2 separate regions of the Homo sapiens genome follow, and region 1 is linked to region 2. Evidence: fine-mapped expression QTL. A gene starts in region 2. The other region holds a variant in brackets. All regions are shown on one strand. Distances are between the middles of the regions.

Evidence for each region.
Region 1: its variant is fine-mapped to the expression of RAB27A in whole blood (TOPMed, PIP 0.94).

Annotation. Positions count from the first base shown.
Region 1 is chr15:55,443,769-55,460,232 of GRCh38, forward strand. It overlaps DNAAF4 (dynein axonemal assembly factor 4), which reads right to left. Exons shown (of 10, transcript NM_130810.4): 6 at 6,454-6,599. It overlaps DNAAF4-CCPG1 (DNAAF4-CCPG1 readthrough (NMD candidate)), which reads right to left. Exons shown (of 16, transcript NR_037923.1): 5 at 6,454-6,599. Among named protein-coding and RNA genes, the nearest start is that of PIERCE2, 44 kb to the left of the region's middle. The variant A/T (reference allele first, on the strand shown) is at 8,177.
Region 2 is chr15:55,281,425-55,297,888 of GRCh38, forward strand. It overlaps RAB27A (RAB27A, member RAS oncogene family), which reads right to left and starts at 8,389. Exons shown (of 7, transcript NM_183235.3): 1 at 8,292-8,389. RefSeq lists a silencer at 8,077-8,606 and an enhancer at 8,707-8,856.

The DNA.
Region 1 (16,464 bases), 160 kb after region 2:
GTTTTGATTTGCATTTCTCTGATGGCCAGTGATGATGAGCATTTTTTCATGTATCTGTTGGCTGCATAAATGTCTTCTTTTGAGAAGTGTCTGTTCATATCCTTCACCCATGTTTCGATGGGGTTGTTTTTTTCTTGTAAGTTTGTTTGAGTTCTTTGTAGATTCTGGATATTAGCCCTTCGTCAGATGAGTAGATTGCAAAAATTTTCTCCCATTCTGTAGGTTGCCTGTTCACTCTGATGGTAGTTTCTTTTGCTGTGCAGAGGCTCTTTAGTTTAATTAGATCCCATTTGTCAATTTTGGCTTTTGTTGCCATTGCTTTTGGTGTTTTAGACATGAAGTCCTTGCCCATGCCTATGTCCTGAATGGTATTGTCTAGGTTTTCTTCTAGGGTTTTTATGGTTTTAGGTCTAACATTTAAGTCTTTCATCCATCTTGAATTAATTTTTGTATAAGGTGTAAGGAAGGGATCCAGTTTCAGCTTTCTACATATGGCTAGCCAGTTTTCCCAGTACCATTTATTAAATAGGGAATCCTTTCCCCATTTCTTGTTTTTGTCAGGTTTGTCAAAGATCAGATGGTTGTAGATGTGTGGTATTATTTCTGAGGGCTCTGTTCTGTTCCATTGGTCTATATCTCTGTTTCAGTATCAGTACCATGCTGTTTTGGTTACTGTAGCCTTGTAGTGTAGTTTGAAGTCAGGTGGCATGATGCCTCCAGCTTTGTTCTTTTGGCTTAGGATTGTCTTGGCAATGTGGGTTCTTTTTTGGTTCCATATGAACTTTAAAGTAGTTTGTTTTCCAATTCTTTGGGGAAAGTCACTGGTAGCTTGATGGGGATGGCATTGAATCTATAAATTACCTTGGGCAGCACGGCCATTTTTACGATATTGATTCTTTCTATCCATGAGCTTGGAATGTTCTTCCATTTGTTTGTGTCCTCTTTTATTTTGTTGAGCAGTGGTTTGTAGTTCTCCTTGAAGAGGTCCTTCACATACCTTGTAAGTTGGATTCCTACGTATTTTTTTCTCTTTGAAGCAATTGTGAATGGGAGTTCACTCATGATTCGGCTCTCTGTTTGTCTGTTATTGGTGTATAAGAATGCTTGTGATTTCTGCACATTGATTTTGTATCCTGAGACTTTGCTGAAGTTGCTTATCAGCTTAAGGAGATTTTGGGCTGAGACGATGGGGTTTTCTAAATATACAATCATGTCATCTGCAAACAGGGACAATTTGACTTCCTCTTTTCCTAATTGAATACCCTTTTTTTTTTTTTTTTTTTTTAGTATTTATTGATCATTCTTGGGTGTTTCTCAGAGAGGGGGATGTGGCAGGGTCATAGGATAATAGTGGAGAGAAGGACAGCAGATAAACACATGAACAAAGGTCTCTGGTTTTCCTAGGCAGAGGTCCCTGCAGCCTTCCACAGTGTTTGTGTCCCTGGGTACTTGAGATTAGGGAGTGGTGATGACTCTTAACGAGCATGCTGCCTTCAAGCGTCTGTTTAACAAAGCACATCTTGCACCGCCCTTAATCCATTTAACCCTGAGTTGACACAGCACATGTTTCAGAGTGCACGGGGTTGGGGGTAAGGTTATAGATTAACAGCATCCCATGCAGAAGAATTTTTCTTAGTACAGAACAAAATGGAGTCTCCTATGTCTACTTCTTTCTACACAGACACAGTAACAATCTGATCTCTCTTTCTTTTCCCCAAATTTCCCCATTTTCTTTTCCACAAAACCGCCATCGTCATCATGGCCCGTTCTCGATGGTCGCTGTCTCTTCGGAGCTGTTGGGTACACCTCCCAGATGGGGCGGCCAGGCAGAGGCGCTCCTCGCCTCCCAGATGGGGCGGCCAGGCAGAGGCACTCCTCACCTCCCAGACGGGGTGGCCAGGCAGAGGCGCTCCTCACCTCCCAAACGAAGGGCACCAGGCAGAGGCACTCCTCACCTCCCAGACGGGGCGGCCGGGAAGAGGCGCTCCCCACTTCCCAGACGGGGTGGCCGGGCAGAGGCGCTCCCCGCTTCCCAGATGGGGTGGCGGCCGGGCAGAGGCGCTCCTCACATCCCAGACGGGGCAGCCGGGCAGAGGCGCTCCTCACTTCCCAGATGCGGCAGCCAGGCAGAGGTGCTCCTCACCTCCCAGACGGGGCGGCCGAGCAGAGGCGCTCCTCACCTCCCAGACGGGGCGGCCGGGCAGAGGCGCTCCTCACATCCCAGACGGGGTGGCCGGGCAGAGGCGCTCCTCACCTCCCAGACGGGGTGGCCGGGCAGAGGCACTCCCCGCTTCCCAGATGGGGTGGCGGCCGGGCAGAGGCGCTCCTCACATCCCAGACAGGGCAGCCAGGCAGAGGCGCTCCTCACTTCCCAGATGCGGCAGCCGGGCAGAGGCGCTCCTCACCTCCCAGACGGGGTGGCCGGGCAGAGGCGCTCCCCACTTCCCAGAAGGGGTGGCAGCTGGGCAGAGGCGCTCCTCACCTCCTAGACGGGGCGGCCGGGCAGAGGCGCTCCTCACATCCCAGACGGGGGGGGGGGGCAGCTGGGCAGAGGCACTCCTCACTTCCCAGACGGGGTGGCCAGGCAGAGGCACTCCTCACATCCCAGATGATGGGCGGCCGGGCAGAGGCGCTCCTCACTTCCCAGACGGGGCGGCCGGGCAGAGGCGCTCCCCACTTCCCAGATGGGGTGGCGGTCGGGCAGAGGTGCTCCTCACATCCTAGACGGGGTGGCCAGGCAGAGGTGCTCCTCACTTCCCAGACCGGGTGGCCGGGCAGAGGCGCTCCTCACATCCCAGATGAAGGGCAGCCAGGCAGAGGCGCTCCTCACCTTCCAGACAGGGCGGCCGAGCAGAGGCGCACCCTGCTTCCCAGATGGGGTGGCGGCCGGGCAGAGGCGCTCCTCACATCCCAGACGGGGTGGCCGGGCAGAGGCGCTCCTCACTTCCTAGACGGGGCAGCCGGGCAGAGACACTCCTCACATCCCAGACAGGGTGGTGGCCAGGCAGAGGCGCTCCTCACATCCCAGATGGGGCGGCCGGGCAGAGGCGCTCCTCACATCCCTGATGGGGTGGCCGGGCAGAGGTGCTCCTCACATCCCAGACGGGCCGGCTGGGCAGAGGTGCTCCCCACTTCCCAGACGGGGTGGCGGCCAGGCAGAGGCGCTCCTCACATCCCAGATGATGGGCGGCCGGGCAGAGGCGCTCCCCACTTCCCAGACGGGGCAGCTGGGCAGAGGCGCTCTCCACTTCCCAGACGGGGCAGCCGGGCAGAGGCGCTCCTCACTTCCCAGATGGGGCAGCTGACGGGCAGAGGTGCTCCTCACTTCCCAGATGGGGCGGCTGCGCAGAGGCACTCCTCACTTCCCAGACGGGGTGGCCAGGCAGAGGCGCTCCTCACATCCCAGATGATGGGCGGCCGGGCAGAGGCGCTCCTCACTTCCCAGACGGGGCAGCCGGGCAGAGGCGCTCCCCACTTCCCAGATGGGGTGGCGGTCGGGCAGAGGTGCTCCTCACATCCCAGACTGGGCGGCTGGGCAGAGGCACTCCTCACATCCCAGACGATGGGCGGCCAGGCAGAAATGTTCCTCACTTCCTAGATGGGGTGGCGGCCAGGCAGAGGCTGTAATCTTAGCACTTTGGGAGGCCAAGGCAGGCGGCTGGGAGGTGGAGGTTGTAGCGAGCCGAGATCATGCCACTGCACTCCAGTCTGGGCAACATTGAGCATTGAGTGAGCAAGACTCCATCTGCAATCCCAGCACCTCGGGAGGCCGAGGCGGGCAGATCAGGAGCTGGAGGTCAGGAGCTGGAGACCAGCCGGGCCAACAGAGCAAAACCCCATCTCCACCAAAAATACAAAAACCAGTCAGGCATGGCGGTGCGTGCCTGCAATCCCAAGCAGTCGGCAGGCCGAGGCAGGAGAATGACAGGAGCCTGAGGCAGGGAGGTGGCAGCGAGCCGAGATCACGGCAGTACAGTCCAGCCTCAGCAACAGAGGGAGACCGTGGAAAGAGAGAGGGGAGAGGGGAGAGGGGAGAGGGCAGAGGGGAGAGGGGAGAGGGCAGAGGGGAGAGGGGAGAGGGCAGAGGGGAGAGGGGAGAGGGGAGAGGGGAGAGGGGAGCCCCTTTATTTCTTTCTCCTGCCTGACTGCCCTGGCCAGAACTTCCAACACTATGCTGTGTTGAATAGGAGTGGTGAGAGAGGGCATCCCTGTCTTGTGCCAGTTTTCAAAGAGAATGCTTCCAGTTTTTGCCCATTCAGTATGATATTGGCTGTGGGTTTGTCATAAATAGCTCTTATTATTTTGAGATACTTCCCATCAATATCTAGCTTACTGAGAGTTTTTAGCATGAAGTGCTGTTGAATTTTGTCAAAGGCCTTTTCTGCATCTGGTGAGATAATCATGCGGTTTTTATCTTTGGTTCTGTTTATATGCTGGATTACGTTTACTGATTTGCGTATGTTGAACCAGCCTTGCATCCCAGGGATGAAGCCCATTTGATCATGGTGGATAAGCTTTTTGATGTGCTGCTGCATTCGGTTTGCCAGCATTTTATTGAGGATTTTTGCATCGATGTTCATCCAGGATATTGATCTAAAATTCTTTTATATTTTCATTTTTCTGTACTGAAAAATATGCAGAAGGTCACTTGAGCCCAAGAGTTCAAGGCTACAGTGAGCCATGATTGTCCCACTGTACTCCAGCCTGGGCAGCAGAGCAAGACCCCCAACTCAAAAAAAAAAAAAAAAAGGGTGTGTGTGTGTGTGTGTGTGTGTGTGTGTGTGTGTGTGTATAAACACAATTCAAAAATAATTCTATGGGCCGGGCGCAGTGGCTCACACCTGTAATCCCAGCACTTTGGGAGGCCGAGGTGGGTGGATCACAAGTTCAGGAGATTGAGACCATCCTGGCTAATATGGTGAAACCCCATCTCTATTAAAAACTACACAAAATTAGCTGGGCGTGGCGGTGGGCACCTGTAGTCCCAGCTACTCGGGAGGCTGAGGCAAGAGAATGGCATGAACCCAGGAGGTGGAGCTTGCAGTGAGCGGAGACTGCGCCACTGCACTCCAGCCTAGGGGACAGAGCGAGACTCCATCCCACAAAATAATAATAATTATTATTATTATTATAACTGTATAATTATAGAAATGTTACAAATATAGAAAATACCTTGTTTAATAATATGAAATAATTATTTATATTGTCATTATGTCTTTTATTTTTTATTTTTTTTTTTGAGACAGAGTTTCACTCTTTCACCCAGGCTGGAGTGAAATGGTGCAATCTTGGCTCATTGCAACCTCTGACCCCCGGGTTCAAGTGATTCTCCTGCCTCAGCCTCCCGAGTAGCTGGGATTACAGGTGCCTGCCACCACACTGGACTAATTTTTGTATTTTTAATAGCGATGGGGTTTCACCATGTTGGCCAGGCTGGTCTCAAACTCCTGACCTCAGGTGATCCACCCACCTCGGCCTCCCAAAGTGCTAGAATTACAGGCGTGAGCCACCACGCCCGGCTTGTCATTATGTCTTAAGGATCTTCTTATTTCTACAATTTTTCAAATCAAAGATGCATCAATTCAGCCTCGCAGTAAAAAAATGCAGTTCTTGGCTGGGTACGGTGGCTCATGCCTATAATCCCAGCACATTGGGAGGCCGAGCAGGGTGGATCGCCTGAGGTCAGGAGTTTGAGACCAGCCTGACCAACATGGTGAAACCCCATCTCTACTAAAAATATAAAAAATTAGCCAGACATGCTGGCGCATGCCTGTAATCCCAGCTACTAGGGAGGCTGAGGCAGGAGAATTGTTTGAACCTGGGAGGAGGAGGTTGCAGTGAACTGAGATTGTGCCCACTGCACTCCAGCCTGGGCAACAAGAGCAAAAACTCCATCTCTAAAACAAACAACAACAACAAAAAGACCGCTTTTTTTTTTTTTTTTTTTTGATTCAAAGTCTCACTCTGTTGCCCAGGCTGGAGTACAATGGTGCAATCTCGGCTCACTGCAACCTCCACATCCCAAGTTCAAGCAATTCTCCTGCCCCAGCCCCGCTAGTAGCTGCGATCACAGGTGCTCGCCACCACGCCAGGCTAATTTTTGTATTTTTAGTACAGATGGAGTTTCCCCATGTTAGTCAGGTTGGTCTTGAACTCCTGACCTCAAGTGATCCACCCATCTCGGGCTCCCAAAGTGCTGGGATTGCAGGCATGAGCCACTGCGCCCGGCCTACTGTACATATATTAAGTCGGTATTCTCTTATCACTATTCTGGAGCCAAAAACATCTGCAAAATATATTTTCTCATAAGGAAATTCTAAAACATATTCATGACGTTATTTCTTTAGTGTAATAAATACTTAAGAAATTCAGAACCAGTACTAATTTCAATAGATGAAATAAAAATAAAGTATTTTCATTTGTGGTAATTGTAACTAGAGTAAGTATATATACCTCCTCCTCTTCTGCTACTTGTGATTCACGAAGAGCTGTTGGGAATACTCGAGGGGTAAAGTTGATTTTAATACTGCCAACAGAGCGAGGAGCAGGAATACTGTCTTCCTTTAACTTCTCAGTAAATATATTTTCTGAATTTCTCCCTTCAAAAACAATGGTAGCAAACAAGTCACTTATTTCTCATTTTCTAGTTAACAATCAACTGATAAAGTAATTACACATCAAAGCTCACCCCCAAATCCTAAACAAATAAATCAAATATATTTTCTGCAAGAAAAGAATGCAAAATTTAGCAATGATAATATAGCAGCTAATGACCTACCTGCTCTTTATCAATGGCCTCAGCTACTTTTCTGGGGTTCTCTTTGTAAAACCACAGTGTTTAATTCACATCAACTCTAAGGGAGGATACTCTAGGCAACTCTACATCAACTCTAGAGAAGGGCACATAGGCAAAACCACCACTGCCAATACCATCTCTATCTCCTTAAACTCTATAGCAGTATCTCCTACATACTTTATCTCCTATATGCTTTCTTATAATAGTGTAAGAGGTTTTAGCCATCAAAGAGAACTAATGAGAACTGGCAAGGACGGGCGCAGTGGCTCATGTCTGTAATCACAGCACTTTGGGAGGCCAAGGCGGGCCAATCACCTGAGGTCAGGAGTTCAAGACCAGCCTGGCCAACATGATGAAACCCTGTCTCTACTAAAAATATAAAAATTAGCCAGGCCTGTGGCACATACCTATAATCCCAGCTACTTGGGAGGCTAAGACAGGAGACTTGCTTGAACCTGGGAGGTGGAGGTTGCAGTTAGCCGAGATCGTGCCATACACTCCAGCCTGGGCAACAGAGTGAGACTCCGTCTCCAACAAACAAACAAACGAAAACTAGGAAAGGGTCTTGACTAGACATTTCAAAGGACTGGGGCAAGGGGGGAAGGAGCGCTCTTAGACTCAAAGATGAAAGCCAAATAATGTGATAACAGAGGTGATCCCATCAGCCAGGATGGCCTTGTAGAACACAGTCGTTGAGCACTGTTGCATAACAAAGTATTACATTAAAGAGAACTAAATTTTTATCTTTATTTGATCTGTACATTTGGGGCTTTATTTTACAATGCTCGGCTTGAACCTACCTAATACAAGATCCCAATAATTTTATATCCAAGTTAACTGTTGCTCACTCATAATGGCAAAAGACATTTCTAGGTATGTAAGAACTCAGCCAACACTACCTAGTCATCTTTTGTGAATACATTACTCAAATAAATGTTCCAGAACACAGAGAAATAACATTAAGAAACCAGGAGTGGGGAATTTGAGAGCAAAATGAAAAAGAATGGGTTTTCTAAAGCAGTGGAGAACACACTAAAAATTTTGTGAATAATATCTTTTTTTTTTTTTGAGACAGGGTTATTACCGTCACCGAGGCTGGAGTGCAGTGATGCAATCACAGCACACTGCAGCTTTGAACCCCTTGGCTCAAAAAATCCTCCCATCTCAGCCTTTCAAGAGCAGGCACTACAGGTGCCCACCACCATACATGGCTAATTTTTTGTTTGTATGCTTTTTTGTAGAGATGGGGTCTTGTTTTGTTGCCCAGGCTGCTCTTGAACTCCTGGGCTCAAGCAATCCTCCCATCTTGGCCTCTCAAAGTGCTGAGATTACAGGTGTAAGCCACCACACCCAGCCTGTAAATAATATTTTTAAATAGTA[A/T]TACAAAAGAAGGAAAATAGGTCTGGGCGCAGCGGCTCACACCTGTAATCCTAGCACTTCGGGATGCTGAGGCGGGTGGATCACTTGAGGTCAGGAGTTGGAGACCAGCTTGGCCAACATGGTGAAACCTCATCTCTACTAAAATTACAAAAAATTAGTCAGGGGTGGTGGCAGGCACCTGTAATCCCAGCTATTTGGGAAGCTGAGGCAGGAGAATCGCTTCAACCTGGGAGGCAGAGGCTGCAGTGAGCCAAGATCACGCCACTGCACTCCAGCCTGGACAACAGAGCATGTCTCACTAAAAAAAAAAAAAAAAAAAAAAAAAGGAAAAGGAAAAAAAGAAGGAAAATAGAATAGAAAGTAAAAATCAAGCATACTTCATTTTACTTCAGATTACTAATAATACTAATGATTAATACGATATAGAACATGCAGGAAATCATCACTATTATCCCATGAGGATAACTAAAAAAAACTATATTGCTACAGAAAAACAAATCTTTATGTGTTTATAAAAAATATTACAGTGACCACTAGTTACAGTAAAAATAAGATATATAATTTCCAAACTCATATATCTAATTTACAAACTCTTCTATTTTCCATTTGCAAATTGCAAAACATAAAAAAGAAATTTGCTGTTTGTAACAACACAGGTTAAAACTTTTACTACAAAGTTTTACATGCAATTTTATGAAAAGGTAAAATGTTATGAACACATACAAATTCTTGATAAAAAATAAATAAACAAAAGGTTCAATATATAGTTCAGTTTCAAAAGTAAGTAAAGGAAATGCTTCATCATCGAACTTAAAGCCAGGGTCATCTCAAAAGCTGACACAAAGCTGTTTGGAAAGATTTTAGATGCAAATAGATTAATATCAATGGCTGGAGACTGGAAATTTAATGCTGATATAGGTACAGAGGTGGGGAGGTGGAAATGAAACTAGAATCATAGAAGGGTAGGACCTCCCGGGTTCAAGCGATTCTCCTGCCTCAGCCTCCTGAGTAGCTGGAATTACAGACGTGCACCACCATGCCCAGCTAATTTTTTTGTATTTTTAGTAGACACGGGTTTCATCATGTTGGCCAGGCTGGTCTCGAACTCCTGATCTCGTGAGCCACCCACCTTGGCCTCCCAAAGTGCTGGGATTACAGGCATGAGCCACCGTGCCCAGTGGGCATCACTCTTAGTGAAAAGGATGCTTATACGATCTCTGCTCACTAATCTTAGAAAGTGAAGCTTGGAAAAAATGTCTCTTGTAAGAAATGGAAGCTCCAGGTATTCCTCATCAACAAGTCTTTTGCAAATAAGAATATATGATATTTCCTCATACATACACACTAAGAAGTTTTTGCAGAAGATTAGTGGTCAGGCAAAAAAGCACAATTCACAAGAGGAAACAATCCAGTATGAGGAACAATCAGCAGACACAACAAATAAGACGACTGGCTCCCCAAGACTTTGAAATAGCACAACAATCTGAAAGAGATTGATCATTTTAAACATACTTACTTAAAGCCAGTAAAGACAGGCTAACATCAATAATGAAAACTAAGAAGCTAGTGACAAAGAACAGAGAGGTGTGAAAAAAAAACAGTTCTTTTTTTTTTTTTTTTTTTTGAGACAGCATCTTGCTCTGTCGCCTAGGCTGGAGTGTAGTGGCGCGATCTCGGCTCACTGCAAGCTCTGCCTCCCGGGTTCACGCCATTCTCCTGCCTCAGCCTCCTGAGTAGCTGGGACTACAGGCACCCACCACCACGTCCAGCTAATTTTTTGTACTTTTAGTAGAGACGGGGTTTCACCGGGTTAGCCAGGATGGTCTCCATCTCCTGACCTCGTGATCCACCCACCTCGGCCCCCCAAAGTGCTGGGATTACAGGCATGAGCCACAGCGCCTGGCCAAAAAACAGAACTTTCAAAATGAAAAATATTGTCACTGAAATTAAAAACATCTTGGACAAGTATAACATAAAATTAGTCATGGTTGAAGAAAATTTATAAACTAGAAGATAGATCTGAGGATATTATACAGAAAATAGCTGAGGAAGATAAAGAGAATACAAGAAAGTTGGCCAGGTATGGTGGCTCACGCCTGTAATCCCAGGATTTTGGGAGGCCAAGACAGGTAGATCGCTTGAGGTCAGGAATTCAAGATCAGCGTGGCCAATATGGTGAAACCCCGTGTCTTCTAAAAATACAAAAATTAGCTTGGTGTGGTGGTGCACATCTGTAGTCCCAGCTACTAAGGAGGCTGAGGCAGGGGAATTGCTTGAACCCAGGAGGTGGAGGTTGCAGTGAGCTGAGATCGTGCCACTGCACTCCAGCATGGACAACAGAGCAAGACTCTGTCTCAAAAAAAAAGAAAAACATCTGTGTAATTTGAAAATATATATTGAAAACAAGAGAATACAATAATGTAATATTTGTTTGTTTTTGTTTTTGTTTTTGAGACAGAGTCTCACTCTGTTACCCAGGCTAGAGTGCAGTGGCACGATCTTGGCTCACTGCAGCCTCTGCCTCCCGGGTTCAAGCAATTCCCATGCCTCAGTATCCCAAGTAGCTGGGATTACAGCTATGTGCCACCACAGCCAGCTAATTTTTGTATTTTTAGTAGAGATGGGGTTTCACCATGTTAGCCAGGCAAGTCTCGAACTCCTGGTCTCAAGTAATTCGCCCAACTCAGCCTCCCAAAGTGCTGAGATTACAGGCATGAGCCAAGAAGGTAAATTACCAGCCAAGAAGGTAATATTTGAAGACAATAGTTTTGAAATTCCCAGAATTGATGAATGACAAAGTTCTCTGAGTGACAGTATGCTCCAAGTTATGATATTATGAGATAAATAAATATAAAATTGAACTTATACTAATGAACCCATAATATACCAAGGGAAAGAATTTTAAAACAACCAGAAACAAAGGATAGATTACTTTATTAAGCATCAAGCTAGATCCATTATACTTCATCCTGGGTGACAGGGTGAGATCCTGTCTCAAAAAAAAGAACAATATTAGAAATTAATAAATTATATAATTATAGATAAAGTACAGATAAGTAAATAAAAACTTTATGAAAATGAATTTGAATAGATAAAATGCACAATTTAGAAGACAAACTACCAAAATTGACTTTGGAAAATTTCAATAATCAATAACTATTATAGAAACTGAATCTTTTTTTTTTTTTAAAAAAACCTCCATAAAAAAACTCCAGACCTAGACAGTTTTAGGGGAAGTTTTACTAAGCCTTAAAACAACAGGTATTTCTCTTATCTAACTATATTGTTTCAAATAGTAGAAAAAGAAAAACGCTCTATAGTATATAGGTCTGGTACAATTTGGTATACAATCTAGACAAGAACAGTATGAGGAAAGAAAAATATAACTGAACCTCAATATGAAGATAAATGTGACAACTGCTTATAAAATATTAGCAAATTGAATATATATATATATATATATATATATTCAATCTAAATGACTTTTTTTTGTTTTTGTTGTTTTGAGACAGGGTCTCACTCTGTCACCCACACTGGAATGCAGTGGCGCGATCTTGGCTCACTGCAGCCTCTTCCTCCTGGGTTCAAGTGATTCTCCTGCCTCAGCCTCCTGAGTAACTGGGACTACAGGCGCATGCCACCACACCTGGCTAATTTTTGCATTTTTAGTAGAGACAGGGTTTCGCCATGTTGCCCAGGGTGGTCTGGAACTCCTAACCTCAGGTGATCTGCCCACCTCGGCCTCCCAAAGTACTGGGATTATAGGCGTTAGCCACCATGCCCAGGCTCTAAATGACTTTTCAATATGCCAAGCCTCACTGTTAAAGTTGTAAAGACATATGACCTGGTGGAAATAGCACAGGTTTCAGATGCAGACCAGATCTGGGTTCAAATCCCACAAGTTTACTTATTCATAGTTATTTTTTTTTTCTGAACATCTATTTCCTCTAAAATAAGAATAGCAGCACTTAGACTGAAGTGTTGTGAAGACTGAGTGACCCAAGCAATAAAATCCCCTGGCACATAGTAGTCACCTAATAAATGTTAATTATTATTATTATATATGTGATTTTACACTAAAATGTTAAATTTATAGGAATTCAATAATGACTTATGTAAGGAAAATACTAAATATTTCTTTTTTTTTTTTTTGAGATGGAGTTTCACTCTTGTTGCCCAGGCTGGAGTGCAATGGCAAGATCTCGCTTCACTGCAACCTCCACCTCCCTGGGTTCAAGCGATTCTCCTGCCTCAGTGCCTCCCGAGTAGCTGGGATTACAGGCACCCACCACCACGTCCGGCTAGTTTTGTATTTTTAGTAGAGACAGGGTTTCTCCATGTTGGTCAGGCTAGTCTTGAACACCCGACTTCAGGTGATCTGCCCGCCTCAGCCTCTCAAAGTTCTGGGATTACAGGCGTGAGCCACTGCATCCGGCGGAAAATGCATCCAAAACAAAGTTTAATATTCTAAAATTAGATAAAACCAAACTCGTAGCTTTCAGTATAGAATTATATTCATTGGGAGATAGGAGGGAAAATGGCAGATCGGAGACAGGATTAACATGCAGCTGCCACCTGGATGGACAGAACAGCATCTGGAGACTCACAATGCGAACTTTTACTCCAAGAATCACTTCAGGAACACCGCAAGAAACACTGTAGGAAAACTGAAAGAATTCACAGACCCTTTGAAAGAAGTGGTTCGCTGCTGCAAATGCCATGAAACAGCTGAAAAACCGTGAGTTCCCAAAGTGTGAGGGAAGAAAAGGTCAGTCTCTGAACATACATCCCCACTGGGGAACCTGAAAATCCAGATCACAGGGGAAGGATTTAACTTTACCCTGAGCTGAAATAGATTTAGGTAGCTGAGCAAAATATGAAAGTAGAAGAAGCAGCAGGAAGAGCCCTATAGGTACTTCCATCCCCAGCTGGAGTCCAAGGAAGCCATTCCTGGCGTGATCTCACAGAGGTCCTTGGAGACGGGAAGGCAGCCAGTGGAATTGGGGCAGGACCACAGGGTGAAGGAAGCTTGTAGCTGAACTTTGTAATAATTTTGACTGAGCAGGAATTTTCCTAAGCAGAAATTGGTGGCAGAGGGGGCAAATGGGAAGTACAGATGCGAGTGCAGAAGCCACAGCCAATAGTGTGGGCAGGCAGGGACTGGTGAGGCCTAACAGCCCTCTTGCTTTCTCAGTGGCAAGGCTTATAGTCTGGGGCAAGATCTCAGCCCTGCTCACCAACTGCCTGGATATAAACGCAGTGCGGTTGGGGTGGCATGGCCAGAGTGAGACTGGCCTTGGTGGCTGCCTGGGAGCTAGGTGAGGCCTGTCACTGCCAGCTTTCCCCCACCTCCCTGGTGACCTGTATAGCACAGCAGAGGCAGCCATAATGCCCCTGGGAACATAATTCCATTGGCCTGAGAATCCCCTCCACCCCCACTGTGGCCACAGCAAGCCCCACCCAAGGGGAGCCTGAGCCCAGACCCAACTAACCTTGCCCCCACCTGATGGGGCAAGGTTTTCTCTACCTGCTCTATGGCCCTGCCCATCACCTGAGAAACCCGAGTACTTGTCCCGGCCAACATCAAGATTATATCTCTCTTCTATACTGCAGCTGGTGCCCTCTTGAAAGTGCCACCTCCTGGCTGGAGCCCAACGAACTCAAGCCACCATAGCAACTCATAACAGAACAACCCTGCTCCAAAGAAGGAGAAAACAACAGCTAATTCCACTTCCTGCAACACCCTGTCTAGCCAGAGGTCCTGAATCTGTCCACGTGACAACTTCACTGCTTACATAACCAGTACTTGAAGTGCACTAAACAAAATTACAACAAAAGACTCCAACAGAATCCACTTCACTCACCTGCCACCACCAGAACAGGTGCTGGTATCCACGGCTGGGAGACCTGTGGATCACATCACAGGGCTCTTTGCAGACATTCCCCAGCACCAGCCTGGGGCCCAACTGGGTGGCTAGAAATAGAAGGGCAATAACAATCACTGCAGTCTGGCTCTCAGGAAGCCCCATCCCTAGTGGCAGGGGGAGGGCACCACATCAAGGGAACACCCATGGGACAGAAGAATCTGAACAGTAGCCCTTGAGTTCCAGATCTTACCACTGAAACAGTCTACTCAAATGAGAAGGAACCAGAAAAGTAATTCTAGTAATATGACAATACAAGGTTCTGTAACACCCCCAAAAGATCATACTAGCTCTCCAGCAATGGATCCAAACTAAGAAGAAATCTGTGAATTGCCAGATAAATAATTCAGAAGGTTGATTATTAAGCTCCTCAAGAAGGCACTAGAGGAAGGTGAAAATCAACTTAAAGAAATTTTTAAAAAAAGGAGGATATGAATGGAAAAGTCTCCAGAGAAATAGATATTATAAAGAAAAAATAATCAAAACTTCTGGAAATGAAAGACACACTTAAAGAAATGCAAAATACACTGGAAAGTTTCAACAATAGATTTGAACAAGTAGAAGAAATAACTTCAGAGATCAAAGACAAGGCTTTCAAACGAACCCAATCCAACAAAGACAAAGAAAAAAAGAATTTTAAAAAATGAACAAAGCCTCCAAGAAATCTGAGATTATGTAAACAAGCAAACATAAGAATAATTGGTGCTCCTGAGGAAGAAGGGAAATCTAAAAGTTTGGAAAACATACTTGAGGGAATAATCAAGAAAAACTTCCATGGTCTTGCTAGAGATCTAGACATCCAAATACAAGAAGCTCAAAGAACACCCGGGGAATTCATTGCAAAAAGATCATTGCCTAGGCACATAGTCATCACATTGTCTAAAGTAAAGATGAAAGAAAGAATCTTAAGAGCTGTGAGGCAAGGTCAGGCACAGTGGCCCACATCTGTAATCTCAGCACTTTGGGAGGCCAAGGCGGGTGGATCACGAGGTCAGGAGTTCGAGACCAGCCTGGCCAACCAAGATGGTGAAACACCATCTCTACTAAAAATACAAAAATCAGCCAGGCGTGGTGGCAGGTGCCTGTAATCCCAGCTACTCAGGAGGCTGAGGCAGGAGAATTGCTTGAACCCGGGAGTTGGAGGTTGCAGTGAGCCGAGATCACGCTACTGCACTCTAGCCTGGGTGACAGAGCAAGACTCTGTCTCAAAAAAAAAAAAAAAAAGAGCTGTGAGGCAAAAGCACCAGGTAATCTATAAAGGAGAACCTATCAGATTAACAGCAGATTTCTTAGCAGAAGCCCTGCAAGCCAGAAGGGATGGGGGTCCTATCTTTAGCCTCCTTAAACAAAATAATTATCCGCTAAGAGTTTTGTATCCAGTGAAACTAAGCTTCATAACCAGAGGCGAGATAAAGTCTTTTTCAAACAAACAAATGCTGAATTTGTCACTACCATGCCAGCACTACAATAAATGCTAAAAGGAGTTCTAAATATTGAAACAAAACCTCAAAATATACCAAAATAGAACCTCCTTAAAACATAAATCTCATAGGATCTATAAAACAATAACACAATGAAAAAAAATAAGGTACAGCAACAACTAGCATGATGAATAGAACAGTACCTCACATCTCAATACTGATATTGAATGTAAATGGCCTAAATGCTCCACTTAAAAGATACAGAATGTCAAATGGATAAAAATCAACCAACCAAGTAAGTCTTTTAACAGACTTGCCTAACATATAAGGACTCATAAACAGGGTGGAAAAAGATATTCCATGCAAATGAACACCAAAGTCAGCAGGAGTAGCTATTCTTTTTTCTTTCTTTCTTTCTTTCTTTTTTTTTTTGAGACAGAGTCTCCTTCTGTTGCCCAGGCTGGAGTGTAGTGGTGCAATCTTGGCTCACTGCAACCTCTGCCTCCTGGGGTCAAGCGATTCTCCTGCCTTAGCTTTCCAAGTAGCTGGGACTACAGGCACGCGCCACCACGCCTGGCTAATTTTTGTATTTTTAGTAGAGACAGAGTTTCACCATGTTGGCCTGGCTGGTCTCAAACTCCTGACCTCGTAATCTGCCCGCCTCGGCCTCCCAAAGTGCTGGGATTACAGGCGTGAGCCACTGCGCCTAGCCAGGAATAGCTATTCTTATACAAAACAAAGCAGACTTTAAAGCAACAACAGTTAAAAAAGATAAAAAAGGACATTATATAATGATAAAAGAATTAGTCCAACAGGAAAATATCACAATCCTAAATATTTATGCACCTAACACTAGAACTCTCAAATTTATTTATTTATTTATTTACTTATTTATTTATTTTTTTTTTTGAGACAGAGTCTCACTCTGTCGCCCAGGCTGGAG
Region 2 (16,464 bases):
GTCCAGGATAGGCACAGTGGTTCATGCCTGTAATCTCAGCACTTTGGGAGGCCAAGGCAGGCAGATCACTTGAGGTCAGGAGTTCGAGACCAGCCTGGCCAACATAGTAAAACCCCATCTCTATTAAAAATACAAAAATTAGCCCAGCATGGTGACATGCTCCTGTGGTCCTAGTTACTTAGGAGGCTGAAGCAGGAGGATCCACTTGAGCCCAGGATGTTGAGGTTGCAGTGAGCTGGGTGACAAAGACAAGAAAGAAGGGAAGGGAAGGAAGAAGAGAAAGGAAGGGAAGGAAGGGAGAAGGGAAGGGGGAATGGAAGGGAGGAAGGAAGGTAGGAAAGGAAAAGAGAAGGAAAAAAAAAGAAACCAGAGGCCCTTACAGACCACAGGTACATATTTGGATCTTATACCTATTACAATGAAAGCAACTAAGGGATTTTAAGCAGAAGGATATGAATTGAATTCCTTTAATTTTTTAAAATTTTGTCTCATGCTCCTCAAGAGTGTGAGTTCCTTTTTTGGGACATCACTGGCTTTGTGTGAAGAATGGGCTATGGCAGGGAGGGGCAAGAATTGGAACAGAAAAGTAGCAGTACAGGCCTTTAACCAGCAGCTGGCACAGAGCAGGCACTTGGATATTTCTGCACTGCTTTAACATAGGGAAATCATAATATACTTGTTTCACCTCCTAATGTATTTCAGAGGAGTTCAAGGAAGAGACTCTGGGTGTTAGCAAAGTTCCATCTAGATGTCACTTCTTTTGAACAACACATAGAATTTTGGATTGTCCACAGTACAACTGGTTCCAATCAAGAAGTATTAGAATAAGAACATAAAAAGAACACACCAGGAAACCATCAGACCAGGCTTCTGGAACCATCCCTGCCATCAATTAGCTATGTGACCTGAGGCACAGCTCTGGATTTCTGGGAGGGGAGCCTGGGCTACAATTTCCAAGGTCCCTACTAGCTCTTAAATTACACAATTCTGTAAGTGTAACAAATGTGGTTTCCTTATCTGGGTGGCAAAATGGGATGATGACTCAGGGTGAGGTTTTTTGTTACAGATTTTCAACCTCCCAGAGAAGCTCTAGTGAAGCTAGAATCAGGGTGTTAATAAAGAAACTGTCCAGTTTTATTATTTCCTTTCCAGGGTATGGTGGTCAGCTGGAAATCTGGGAAGTAGACATTCCTGGCAGCTGCGAGCTTATCGTGCAAAGACTGAGAACCCAAGTCCCTGTGTAACCCTTCAGGTACACGATCTCTGGGGTCCCCTGCTCATGTGGCTTTCGCTCATGTGGAAGCACACAATAGACAGGCACTGAAGACCAGCCTCTCACTTCCTCCTGCTGGTAGGCTGTTCCCAAAGGGTCCACTCCTCTCCTATGGCCAACCTGGCACCTCCACGAGAACCCCATTTCGCATGATCCCTGGGGGCAGTGGTTCTCAGTCTCAACTGCAACTGCCCATCAGAATCCCGTGTGGAGACAATAAATAAATAAATAAACAAACAAACAGCCTGAGCCCTACCCCACATTTACTGACTTAGAATTGGGGTGAGGGAGAGGTTAGAAAGACAACAGCGGTAGTTAGGCTTAGTTAGTTTTACATGATGGACAGAACGTGTAACTTGGGAAACTGTAAGCCAAAGAGGTTGAATGAGTTGTCTAATGCAGGGTTTCTTAGCGTCGGCACTGTTGACATTTTAGGCAGGATAATCCTTTGTTGGGGGCTCTCCTGTGTACTGAGAATGTTTTGCAGCATCCCTGGCCCCCACCCACTAAATGCCAGGAGTAACTCCCCAGCTGTGACAGTCAAAAATGTCTCCAGGCATTGCTAAATGTCCCATGTGGGGTGGGGCAGGGGAGAAAATCACCCCCAACTGACATACACTGGTGTGATATCACATAGTTAATAATCAGGAATATGGAGACTAAAAACCGACCGACTGATTCCTGACTGTGTTGATTCTTCCACATTCAAGCAGGAAGTCCGGAACACAGGAATGAGCCGCCACCTGAGGAAATACCACAACCCACTTCACTACACAACCCACTTCAATACACAGCCTAGGGCAGACGTGGGACCTGGGACAGCTGACCTTGTCCCTAATGAGAAAAGCCACATTAGGTCTCCAGTATTTGACTGTGAGGACAATGACTTATCTTTTCAAGGACTGTTACACCTCTTCACTCATTCTTGGAGTTGTTTCCTTGAAATGATGCGATTTATTATGAAAATCACTATTTTCATAATGATTTCTTAGCAAGAAACAAAGAAATCCTGACCACAATCATAGGTTATATTTTAAAATTCTTTAGTTTTGTAAATGAACATTTAAGTCATGACCTATTTCTGTATGTTTCATTTCTCCCCTTATTAGGGCTAGTACAGCAAGAACAAAAGTATCATATTATTGTGTTTAACTAGCTGATTTAGACCTTGACTTTGCTTTTAACGATACAAATACACAGCAGATTAGTATTTAGCCATACCCTGATAGGACTTGACCAGCCTCCCAGGTGGTGGGATCAGGCCAAGGTAGATAAACTATAGCAAATAAGAATGAACAGACTTTTCAGTCTCGTGGCAACCAATTTTATTATTATGCTTTGACCTGGCAGCTGGTAAGACTTTATATGAATTAACCAATGAAACTATGAAAAAACAAGATTAGTGGTTCTGAAATATGGTATTCAAATAGCAGTTAGAGAAAGCAGTTCATTTTCAAGGCTGCTTTCTTTTAAATAGGTACAAATAATTACAATAAAAAATAATAAAATCTTGTTTAAAAAGAACAGATCTCTAGTGAGCAAGTCACATACACCTGTCTATCTACCTTGGTCCTTGTCATATGTATATCTTCCATATTTATTGTACCAAAATAAAAAGGGGTGAGGAATTTTGTGGGAATAGGCCACTCAAAGCAAGCAGGCTTTCCATAAGACAACACTTAGTTGTTGTGGAATTATACTCAGTAAGACCACCTTAATCAAAGCACCTTATAATAAATACTCCAGAGGGTCAAAAGTGTTAACAAAACCATAAAAAAAAATAAAACCACATTGAATTACAGGCTTTCTGGCATAACAGCAGGGACAAGAACCACATGGGGCTTTCAACAGTTATGCGGCTCTCAGAGAAAAGTCAAAGTGTCTCATGAGAATGGCTTTGGCTGCCACATGTTGGATCTGGGGACTGAAGGACAGTATGATAATGAGGTGATCTTGAGTGGATGGCTAGAGATGTGATTAAAGGTCAACATGAAAACATAAGCAACTTCTTCATGACCTCTTAAGGGAAGGGATTATGCAGCAGAACAACTGCTGGTTCCAGAGTCCCACTTCCAGCTCTGCCACTAACTCTATGTGACTTTGACAAAGTGACTTAACCTCTCTGGAGTAAATTCCATTAACTATAAAAGACTAGAGTAAAATGAAATGTTCTCTAACTTCCTTCTAATTCTAATACTCCTTGGGTTTACAAATCTTCTCTTTTGGATACATGCACAATCACCAAAAATCAGCCATGGCTCAATCATTCTTTGGACATTTTCACCATCGATGCATTTCCTATGCATAAACATAAACTCCAGCTAGGGCTGCCAGACACAAAACAAGACATCCAGTTAAATGTGCATTTTGGATAAAGAACAATTTTTTAGTAAAAGTATGTCCCAAATAATGTATAAGATATAGGAAACAATTATTTAGTGTTTTTCTGCAATGCAAATTTAACTTTTTTTTAGTTTGCTAAATCTGGCACCCCACCTCCATCCCCACATTAGAATCAAAACTCTCACTCCACACACGGGAGGTTGGCTGACTAAAGCACTACATGGTAAACTTCTGTTTAAGGGCAACATATACAGACGAAAAACAAACAACCAAAAAAAAAAAAAAAACAGGAAAGGAGGAACAAAACTTTCAGCATTCCTCGTAAGAGAGGCATCTAATTTTACTTGACAATAAATAAAATATGAGTATTACTAGACCTCAATCATACAAGTACCTGCAAAACCAGAGAGTCCAAACAGAGCTGAATGCTCTCTACTCCACACACCTTACCCTACGAACATAAGTAAATTACAAACCCTTTATCTCTGCCTCCAGTTCAGGGCTCATGTCTGCACCTAGCTTAAGGGAAACCAAATCATAAACTCAAACTTCCTGACCAAGAGGCAGAAGAACAAATACAGTCCAAGAAAATCTGCAAGTGGCATAAAAAGTGAAGGCTATAGAAGGGAAAAATTACTCTCTTCAAGAACCAATCTTGTTTTAGCGATGGCAAGACAATTTCCCTTCTCAGGGGCCTGGCCAACATGGTGAAACCCCGTTTCTATTGAATAAATAAATAAGAAATGAATTTCCATTTTCTCAAATTTCCAAAAAACTTCACTCTTCTTAAATTAGCACAAGAGGCCAACACCCTGGAGATAGGCACTGAATGGCCCTGCCCAGTTTGCCCAGGATATAGACAGAGGGCTCCGGTCTGCCACTGTGGGAGGGACCAAAATCCTCACCTTTCTACTTATTTGACCTTTCCCTTTTTAAGGAAGATAAGACTATTATTTTTGGGAAAGTAGGACAGAAGACGAGAGACTTAGGAGATGTTGGTGTATCTATAGACATTGCTTCTCTTAGAAAAAAATGGATGGAATAGTGGGAAAGAAATAGCAGAACACTCTACAGACATACCATCCTGGATGTGCCCGATCTCCTCTGATCTTGGAAGCCAAGCAGGGTTGGGCCTGGTTAGTACTTGGATGGGAGAAATGGCAGAATGATCCCTATTGCTCTGTCTTCTGTTCCCTTTTTCATTAGTTCAACACATATCTCTTTGAGTGCTTAATATATGTCAGAAACCATTCTATGTGCTATGGACATCACAGTGAACAAGGCAGATTACTGGCCATCCTGGAGCTTGTCTTCTACCAGTGAAAGACAAATGTTGTGTGTGTGTGCTGGTCTGTGTATGACAGTTCTATAAATACTCGAAAGAAAACAAGGCAAGGTAAGGGGGCAGAAAATGATGGGATAGGTGAGGGATACTATTCTAGATGGAGTGGTCTAAGAAGGCCTCTCCAGAAAAATGACTTTTCACCTGAATGAAATAAATAAGAAAGCCATGCAGACATCTGAGGGGAAGAGCATTCCAGGCAGAGGAAACAAGTGCAAAGGTCCTGAGGTATGGCTGGAGCAGAGTCAGCAAAGGCAAGAGTGATAGCAGATGAAGCCGCACTCCATGCAAGGGTTGTATAGACCATGGTGAGGACTCTGTCACTTCTGAGATAAAAAGCCACTGGAGAGTTTCAAGCAGAGTGACATAATAGACTCTGGCTGCTGTGTTAAGAATAGAGTGTGGAGCAGTAAGGGTGGAAGCAGGGAAGCCCTTCAGAAGGCTTTTGCAGTAATCCAGGTGACAGAGATGATAGAACTTGGTGGAAGCAGCAGAAGTGGTGAGAAATGGTTATCATCCTAGATGTATTCTTTTTTTTTTTTTTTTTTTTTTTTTGAGACGGACTCACACTCTGTCGCCCAGGCTGGAGTGCAATGGCACGATCTTAGCTCACTGCAACCTCCGCCTCCTGGGTTCAAGCGATTCTCCTGCCTCAGCCTCCTGAGTAGCTGTGATTACAGGCACCCACCACCACGCCCCGCTAATTTTTGTATTTTTAGTAGATACAGGGCTTCACCATGTTGGCCAGCCTGGTCTTGAACTCCTGACCTCACGTGATCCACCTGTCTCGGCCTCCCAAAGTGCTGCGATTACAGGCGTGAGCCACCGCACCCGGCCTGCTGAGGAATTTAATGTGGGGTATAAGAGAAAGAATCAAGAGTGATTTCAGGGTGTTTGGTGTGAGCATCTGGAAGAGTGAAGTTGCCATTCACTAAGATGGAGAAGACTAGGGGAAAAGCAGCTTTGGGAGAGAAAACTCAAAAATCTGGCTCCTAGAGATTGTTGCTCACTTTAAAACCCTTACATCTATTTTAGAACCAAAACAATAGAAATTGAGAAGCTGACTTTAAATTTCATGTGGAAGGCCAGGCATGGTGGCTCATGCCTATGATCACAGCACTTTGGGAGGCTGAGGCAGACAGATCACCTGAGATCGGGAGTCCGAGACCAGCCTGACCAACATGGAGAAACCCTGTCTCTACTAAAAATATAAAATTAGCCAGGCATGGTGGCACATGCCCGTAATCCCAGCTACTCAGGAGGATGAGGCAGGAGAATCACTTGAACCAGGGAGGCGGAGGTTGCAGTGAGCTGAGATCGTGCCATTGCACTCCAGCCTGGTAAATAAGAGCAAAACTCCATCTCGAAAAAAAAAAAAAATTCATATGGAAATTCAAGGGACTGGATAGTCAAAACAATCTTGAAAAAGAACAAGGTTGGAGGACTCACATATCCTGATTTCAAAACACTATGTAGCTACAATAATCAAGGTAGTATGATACTAGCCTGAGGACAGACATACAGATCAATGGAATAGAACTGACAGTCCAGAAATAAACCTTTACATTCATGGTCAATTTATCTCAACAGAGGTGCCAAAACTATTCAAAGAGGAACAGTCTTTTAAACAAATGGTGCTGAAAGAACTGGATATCCACATGCAAAAAGTTGAAGTCAGACCCCCTGCCTCACACCATATTTAAAAATTAACTTAAAATGGGTCAAAGAATGAAATGTAAGAGCTAAAAACTATAAAACTTTTAGAAGAAAACATAAGTATAAATCTTCATGATCTTGAATTTGACAATGTTTTCTTAACTTTGACATCAAAAGCACAAACAACAAAAGGAAAAATAGGCTCGGTGCAGTGGCTCAAGCCTATAATCCCAGCACTTTGGGAGGCTGACGCAGGTTGATCACTTGAGGTCAGGAGTTCAAGACCAGCCTGGCCAACATAGCAAAACCCCGCCTCTACTAAAAATACAAAAATTAGCCAAGCATGGTAGCACACACCTGTAATTCCAGCTACTCTGGAGTCTGAAGCAAAAGAATCACTTCAACCCAGGAAGCGGAGGTTGCTGTGAGCCAAGATCATGCCACCGCATTCCTACCTGGGCGACAGAGTGAGACTCTGTCTCAAAAGAAAAAAAAGGAAAAATAGATTAAATATACTTCAACGAAATTAAAAATCAAGGCACGTCACAGAAATTAAGGAAGGAAGAAAAAAGGGAGGGAGGGAGGAAGAGAGAATGGTAGAAAGGAAGGAAGAAAAAAGTAGGAATGAAAACATAAAACAACATAAACCAACATAAAATACAGAAAATAATGATCCTCAGTCAAGTTCCTTCAGCATTATATTAACCTTTCTTCACTTCTAACCATCTGCAGAAACTGTTTTCCAGATTGTATTTTCCCTCTAAAGCAAGTTTTTAAGGCCGAAAAAAAAAAAAGAACAAGAACAGTGAGTGGAGAATCAACAAATTTAATTAGCAATGATTACAGAAAACTTAAATAGCACACACAACTCTATAATCCCTCTACCCCCAATTCCAACATCTGACTGATCAACCAACCATAAAATGTGAGAATCCATCCAGAAGGAAAGAACAGCTGTTAAGCTGTAGGGGTAAGGACCCTGTGGCAGAAGACCCTGAGGCCATGTGGGCCCAGGTGGCCAGCAGGAGCGGAAAGGCTGGGAAGGCTCCTCAGTCCAGGGCTCACAAGACTCCCTTCGCTTCAGGCCTGACTTTGCTGAACTGGTGATCTATTGGGACAGAGACAGGCTTTGGCAATAGTTACCAAAGCCTGTCATCATATCTGCACCACCACCAGTCCCGACCGGAGGGCCTGGCTGCCAGGTAGTTTTCAGTCTAACTGACAGGAGAAGAGAGAGCCCCTCCCTCGCAGCTAGTCTGCAGTCCAGACCCTCACCAACCGGAGGGCAACCAGGTTAAACAGTTAAACTGAAAGCAAAAGAGGGAGGAATGAACCGGGGGGCGTGCGGGAGGTCGGGGACTTTCCTCCTTTCCCTCCTGGAAAGTTTCCTACCCCTGATGGGCATCCTCCCACCTGGATGCAACCCGGAGGCGATCTGAGACCCTGGCCGGACCTGGGACCGCACCTGGCCAGCACCAGGCAGTTGTCATCACTGGGGTCTGCGCTGAGGGCCTGGGAGAGAAGCCACTCTTCAGGCGGGCTCGGGCGCCTGGAGGCGGGGAGGAAGGGCGGCGCACTCGGACCCCAGCCCTAGGACGGCCCCAGGGGGACGCCTCGCTCGGCCCTCCCGGAGGGACCGGACCCGCCGCGCGCCTCCCGCTCCTCAGGCCCCCTCACCTGGCTCGCCCCGCCGTCCTGTCCCCGCCTGGCTCGGGTCCTCGCGCGCCGCGTCCACCCGCCGCCGGCCTTTTTTGGGTCGTTGGCGGGTATTTTCCGCCTGGCCCCACATCACTTCCCGTAAAGGAGAGCGAGGTGGGGCGGGACCTTCTCTCCTCCACCTCCCGCCTTCTCCTGTCACCTCGGGAGCGGCCCCCGCCCGGCTGGCGGGGGGCGGGGTGCTGTCGCGCTCTCCCCGGCGGCCGCGCCTCCGAGGGGTCCTCTGTGAGCCCCGAAAAGGCCCCGCTCGCCTCCTTTGTCCCAACACTAGTTTCCGCTGCCCCATTCTGGAAGGCGCTACAAAATATAGGAGTGTTTTCGTTTTGGGACACAGGAGGGACATTTACAAACTGCACCAAGGACCGGTGCGCGGCGAGGTGTCGTTTGGGGACTCTCCCCTATTCACCTCCCCAAAAAGCCATGTTCTAAGGGTGTTTTCCACGGCATCAGTTCGCGGTCGCCACCGTAGCAGCCGGAGGTGCCGGGCGTACTCACGCCGGCCCCGCCCGAGGTTCCCGAGTCCGCGCGGCTCCTGAGGCGGCGTCCCAGGCCCGGCCCTGCCCCCGGCTTCCCGCCCCTGCGGCTCCTGGCTTAGGTCGGCCTGGACACGGCGTTTCCGGGGCAAGGGAATGCCCAGGATTCCTGGAAATAACATGGGAGAAAAATAAGTAAAAAATTTCGCAGGAAAAAAATCAATGTAATTCCGGGAGGAAATGGCAAACGGAGTCTCTGCTCACACTGTGTAATTCAAGAATATAAAACCACTGTAAATTTCTAAGAGTGTTAGAGCAATGAGTTTAAAAAGAAGAAAACTACAGTATGTTAAGGAACCGCCTCTGTCGGAAGAAACCTGCGCGCCTTTGCTGCCACCCAGCGGCTCTCTTCTCCCAGCGCCAACGGTGTCGCTCCGGCCTGCGGGGTAGTGAACCTGGGACTGCGTAGGGGGTCAGACCTCGTGGTTCCCACTCAGAGGCAGCCAAGTTCATCCCTCTCAGTGGCCAGGAGGTGTGAACAGCAGCCCTTGGGCCTGTCCCTATGGAGTCTAAGGCAAAGGCCCTTTGAACCAAATGTTTCCACTTCTAAGCAGAGTAAAATGTTGAGAAGCCTTAGTTCAGCTTCCCTTCTGCCTTCTAAGCCGTCTCGCTGACTTGTGTCTACCTCCACCGCAAATTCCAGCTGTCGCAGGCCCACCCGGTCAACTCCATCACCTTTCCAGTCTGTAGCTACTCACAGTTGGCATTACAGCAGTTAGCTTCTCAGGTGGGTCCAATTTACAAAATCACATATAGGATGAACCATATGAAATTACAAACAGTTGGCAATTTCATACATTTGATATAACATTTCCAGGCAAACATAACACAGTAAACTCGGGTTTAGAGATAACAAATGTCCTAACAGGTTGATAACTTCAAGAGCTCTTCCCGTGTGAGAGAAGGGCCATCAGACTGTTGGTGAGGTTAAGAGAGAAAAAGGCCGGGTTAGGTGGCTCACGCCTGTAATCCCAGCACTTTGGGAGCCCGAGGCCGGCAGATCACGAAGTCAGGAGATCGAGACCATCCTGGCTAACACGGTGAAACCCCGTCTCTACTAAAAATACAAAAAATTAGCAGGGCGTCGTGGCACGCGCCTGTAGTCTCAGCTACTTAGGAGGCTGAGGGCAGGAGAATCGCTTGAACCCGAGAGGTGGAGGTTGCAATGAGCCGAGATGGCGCCACTGCACTCCAGCCTGGGCGACCGAGCGAGACTCTGTTTCAAAAAAAAAAAAAAAAAAAAAAAAAAAAAAAAAGGGAAAAGGTAGCCTCATGTTCATGTCCAGAGGAATAGTCCTGGGAATCACTGATCAGCTAAAATCTGGGAAACCAATAATGTAGTAATTGCTAATGGCTGATATGGCACAGGGAAAGCCTGCCTTCAGCTTTCCCCACTCCTGTGGCCAGGCAAGGCTCTCACCAGGAGTATACCAGACAGGAGATCAGAAAACCTAGGATGGTGCTATGGCCCATTCATCACCCATTCATTCACTCATTCATCAAGTCAGGCACCCTATTAGTAAACAAGGTAAACTGGTCCCTGACGTCAGGACTTACTTGAGAGACCATCGAATAAGTAGGCAACTCCAGTAGTGAGATAAGAGCCTCAATAAAGGAAGTTAAAGAGTGTTATTGGAGCACAGATAAATGACACCAAATCAAGAGAAAGTTAAGGATAAACTTAGAATGAATGAGGGCAAGGGGCAAGGGAGAAGAGAATTCCAGGAAAATGGAGCAGAGGGAAGGCCTGGAAGCAAAAGATAGCATTCAACACTGGAGCAACAGGAAGAGGTTCAGAAAAGCTGAAAGACTGAAAGCAATCAGAAAAGAAAATGGAGAAATAACAGAGGCTGTGCGGTGAATAACCCTGCAATGATGATCATGATCATAACTAACATTTCTTGATCATTTACTATGAGTCAGCCAATATGCTAATAGTTTTGACTACATCACCTCATACGTGTCTTACAACTACTTTATGAAGTAGGTACTATTCTTACCTCTGTATTACAGATGAGGAAACTGAGTCCTAAAGCGATTAAGCAGTCTGACCAAGATCATGCAGCTAATAAGTGGCACAGCCAGGCCTAAAACTCAGAACTCAAGTTTTTAATGGTTCTAAGAATGGGTCTGAGAGGTCAATTAGCACGCTGTAATCCAAGTGAGGGATAATAGCGATCTGATTACGGCAGTGGCCATAAGGATGGAGATGAATGGACATATTTGACATATTTAGGAGAGTGAATCAAGAGGACTGGGATGTAGGGGTGTGAAAGAGAGGCAGTAGTCCATGGGGATGCCCAGTTTCTGGTTTGGGCAACAAGAAACCATTAAGCAACAGGAAGAAAACCTAGTTGCAACCAGGAGGAAGGGTGAAATAGGCCATAGTGATGAGTTTAGGACATTTCCATTTTGACACACTAGCACCAACAGAATATCCAAGTGAAGCTGTTTAGTATGTAGTCAAACAGGCCTATCTGAAGCACAGAAAACATGTGCTGTAGCTATTACCCAAAAGGTACTGGAAGGCATTAGAATCAATGAGCTAATCTAGAAAGTGAGCTGAGAGGGCAATAGGCTTGTTACAGAACCCAGATGAACACCCAGCATTTAAGGCATGAGCAATGGAAGTTCAAAAAGGAATCCAAAAAAAGAGTATCCAGAGAGGTAGGAAGAAAACAAGGAGAGTGTTATTACAGAAACTAAGTACACTGAACACATCTCGTGTGTCAGTTCAAAGTCATCTCTACGCCACTTCTTACTGCAGCCACAGAATCGATCACAGTATACCTCTTGCTTCCCACACTGGGGCTTTTCTGACACTGCTACTTGCAACATGGAGAGTTCTGCCTCCAGTTTTCCTAATAGAATTAAAGTGGATGGAATCAGTAAGAATTCATGGATTTTAATAAATAAATATAGATATATGTATGTGTATATGTATGTATTATCTAGCTCTGTCTGCTAAGAGGTCCTAGAAGCAATTATATCAAAGTAGCTACGAGTACACTTAGCACCTGGATGTTGATTTCTTAATATCCCTTTCCAACAAAAGGAACCAATTACATAATATTATATATGGAAAATCCTAAATAAAAAATCTATTAGTGCTAATAAATGAAATAAGCAAAGATGCAAGATACTAGATCAACACATAAAAATCAGTTGCATTTCAATGTATTAGAAATGAACAATTGAAAAGGAAACTTTAAAAGTTCCATTTACAATAATATCAAAAAGAATAAAATACCTAGGCATAAATTTAACCAAGAAGGTGCAGGATTTATACATTGAAAACCACAAACCACTACTGAAAAAAAAAGAAAATCTAAATAAATGAAAAGACATGGCCAGGCGCGGTGGCTCACGCTTGTAATCCCAGCACTTTGGGAGGCTGAGGCGGGTGGATTACCTGAGGTCAGGAGTTTGAGACCAGCCTGGCCAACTTGGCGAAACCCGTCTCTACTAAAAATACAAAATTTAGCCGGGCGTGGTGGTGGGTGCCTGTAATCCCAGCTACTCGGGTGGTTGAAGCGGGAGAATTGCTTGAACCCGGGAGGTGGAGGTTGCAGTAAGCCGAGATCGTGCAACTGCACTCCAGCTTGGGTGATGAGTGAAACTTCTCAGATAAAAAAAAAAGAAAAGAAAATACATTTAATGTTCATGGAATCAAACACATAATATTGTGAAGATGGCTATATTCCCCAGATAGAGCTACAGATTCAACAACATTTTTGAAGAAATGGAAAAGTGTATGCTAAAATGCATATGAAATTGCAAAGGACCCAAAAATTTAAAAAGTTCATGCTTCCTGATTTCAAAATGTACTACAAAGGTATAGTAATTAAAAAAAAAACCTATGGTATTGATATAAAGACATATAGATAAGTGGAATAGGCTTGAGAGTCTAGAAATAAAATTATGCATCTATAGTCAAGATCTTTCAATGGAGAAAGAAGTTTCCTCAGCAAATGGTACTGGGAGAACTGGATATCTACATGCAAAAGAATGAAACTGAGGCCTGGCGCGGTAGCTCACGCCTGTAATTTCAATACTTTGGGAGGCCAACATAGGTAGAGCCCTTGAGCTCAGGAATTCCAGACCCAACTGGGCAACATGGTGAAACCCTGTCTCTACTAAAAATAGAAAAATTAGCCAGACGTGGTGGCTTGCACCTGTAGTCCCAACTACTCGGGAAGCTGAGATGGGAGGATCGCTTGAGCCCAGGAAGCGGAGGTTGCAGTGAGCCAAGATCGTGCCACTACACACCAGCCTGGGCAACAGAACAAAACCCTGTCTCCGAAAAAAAAAAAAAAAAAAAAAAAAGGAAGAAGAATAAGGAATTGGACTCTTACCAATACCATATATAAAATTACATGATACACAAAAATTAACTCAAAATGAATCAAATAGCTGAATATAAGAACTAAAACTCTAAAACTTTTAGAGGAAAACATAGGCATCAATCTTTATGACCCTGGGTTTGGCAATGATATTTCTTAGATTTGACACCAAAAGCACAAGCAACAGAAGAAAAGAGTAGATTAATTAGACTTCACCAAATTTTTTGTAAATGGTGCATAAAAGCACACTATCAACAGAGTGAAAACACAACCTACAGAATGAGAGAAAATATTTGCAAATCATATATATCTGATAAAATTATAGTATCAGAATATATAAAGAGCTGTAACTACTCAACAACAAAAAGACATAATCCAATTAAAAAGTGGGCATATGAATACAATTGAATATACATTTCTCCAAAAAAGACATAAAAATGGCCAACTTCAAATGAAAAGATGTTTAATGTCATTAGTCATTAAGAAAATGTGAATCAAAATCACAATGAGCTGCCACTTCAAACTCACTAGGTTGGAAAGAAAGAAAAAGCAAGAGAAAGAGAAAGAAGGAAGGAGAAGGAAAGGGAGGGAGGAAAGAAGGGTGATTTGGCAAGGACATGGAGAAACTGGGAATGTAAAATAGTGCAATCACTTTGAAAAAGTTTGGTGAGTCTTCAAAAAGTTAAACAGATGACCTAGCAAGCCTATTCCTAGAACTATGCCTAAAAGAACTGAAAACAAGCATCCAAACAAATATTTAATACTTGTACATAAGTGTTCATAGCAGCATTATTTACAACAGCCCAGAACTGGAGACAAATGGCCACCAAGGAATGAATAAACAAAATGTGGCACATCCATATAATGGGATTTTATTCAGCCATAAAGAGGAATAAAGTATTGATACATGTTACAACGTGGATGAACTTCAAAAACATTACACTAAGTGAAAGAAGTCAAACACAGAAGGTCACATATTGTATAATTCCACTTATATGAAACATCCACAGCAGGTAAATCCATAGAGACAGAAAGCAGACTAGTGGTTTCCAGAGGCTAGGGAGAGGGAGAAATGAGGTGTTGACTGCTTATTGCACACGAGGTTTCCTTCTGAGGTGATGAAACTGTCTTGGAACTAGATAGAAGTGGTATTTGCACAACATTGTGAATGTACAAAATGTCACAGAATTGTACACTTTAAAATGGCCAAGACTAATTTTTTGTGATGCAGATTTTGCTTCAATTTTTTTTTTTTAAAAGAACCAATACTTTTTTTTTTTTTTTGAGATAGAGTTTCACTCTTTCACCCAGGCTAGAGTGCAGCGGTGTGACCTCGGCTCACTGCAACCTCCGCCTTCCGGTTTCAAGCGATACTCCTGCCTCAGCCTCTCGAGTAGCTGGGACCACAGGCACCCGCCACCATGCCCAGTTGTTTTTGTATTTTTAGTAGAGACGGGGTTCCACCATGTTGGCCAGGCTGGTCTCGAACTCCTGACCTTGGGATCCAACCACCTTGGCCTCCCAAAGTGCTGGGATTACAGGTGTGAGCCACCGTGCCCAGCCCCAGTACTTCTTGATTCAAAACTTGGTGTGGGGCCTGACGCGGTGGCTCACACCTGTAAGCCCAGCACTTTGGGAGGCCGAGGTGGGCAGTCTGGAGTTCCAGACCAGCCTGGCCAACAGGGTGAAAACCCGTCTCTACTAAAAATACAAAAATTAGCTGGGCGTGGTGGCACATGCCTGTGGTCCCAGCTACTCGGGAGGCTGAGGCATGAGAATCACTTGAACCCGGGAGGCAGAGGTTCCAGTGAGCCTAGATGCCTAGATCGTGCCACTGCACTCCAGCTTGGGCAATAGAGCAAGACTCCATCTCAAAAACAAAAAAACAAAGAAAAACAAAACTTGGTCTGGGAAGGAAAAAGATGAGCCAGAAAGTAAAAGAGTGCTCAGAAAATGACAGTGACATGCAAAGGACACAGGATCCATCCTGAGGGAGGACTATTCCTCAGTTAAAGACTTATTTATTTTTAATTAGACTATAATTTTGCTTTTTTTTTGGCACAATGGAGCATGCTGAGAGCCTGGAGCCTCTGATGACATGTGGGTCTGAGGCCTGCTGCTGCCTATTCCCTACCGCCGGTCCCATGGTCCCTGCCCAGCTTTGCATTCCCTGCCTTGCTTCAGAGCAGTGACTGGGTCACCTTGGCTAGGGGAGGCCCACGTTTTGTCATCACCTTCCACCCTGGCAGAAACCTAGGTATGGATAGGTGCAGGAGGGTTCAGGGTTGGGCCCATATCCCAGGGCACTGTCAACCTAAAAAAAAGACATCAGAAAAAAATATTTCATAATATAATTATTTTATCTGGGAGTAAGCAAAAAGGATTATAACCTGGGATGCACAGTTATAGCAAGCCACAAATGCATCCAGAGAGGGGAGGGTAAAGGGAAGCCTTTATCGGTACAACAGAGAAGTTCATGTAAGCTACTTAGAAACAGTTTATTGGTACCAGAGGCTCAAAGCCAGAGTTACTAGTAGATCACTGGTAGAGAAGCCATTATCAGGCAAGCCTTCTTTTGAGATCATCTTATCTGAATTGCTGCAGTCCTAAAAAATGTCTAGTAAGAAATTGTGTCAAAGAAATACGTGCATGTGTGTGAAACATGCAAGCCGTGCAAAGCATAAGATGCATGAAGGACATGAGAGAATTTCTTGTGGGTTATTGCCTGGAAACAGCTTTTAGCTGTAGACATGCAAGCATGAGCTCCTCTCCTTTGTGCTCTCCTAGCTCCAATTTGTCTGGGTCTGAGTAAAGTGGACTTTATCCTGTAACTGCAACTTTCATAGCACCATGGGGTGATCAAGAAGGCAGCTGTCCCCTCCCTAATCTGACAGTAGCACAGCACATTCTGCAGGCCATTCAGCTGGGGCCTCTTACCAGTGCCATCCAACAACTGAGAACAAACCAGCATGGAAGGTACAGTTCCCTGGGCATTGTCCATTTGCATTGACTGGAACAGCCAGTTTATGAGAAGAGGAAATTGGCTTCCTTGTCCCCACCCAGGGCCCTGCATTTTCATTTGTGCTGGGCCCCACAAATTACGCAGCCAGCCCTGATAGTAGTAATGGATTGTAACCCACAAAATAGGAATCCATGAATCATGCTAGTACATCATTTCTGTATATTTCTACCAAATTGAATCTATGAAATAATAAAAAACCATCAACAAACCCAATTTAATAGACATTCTACAACACA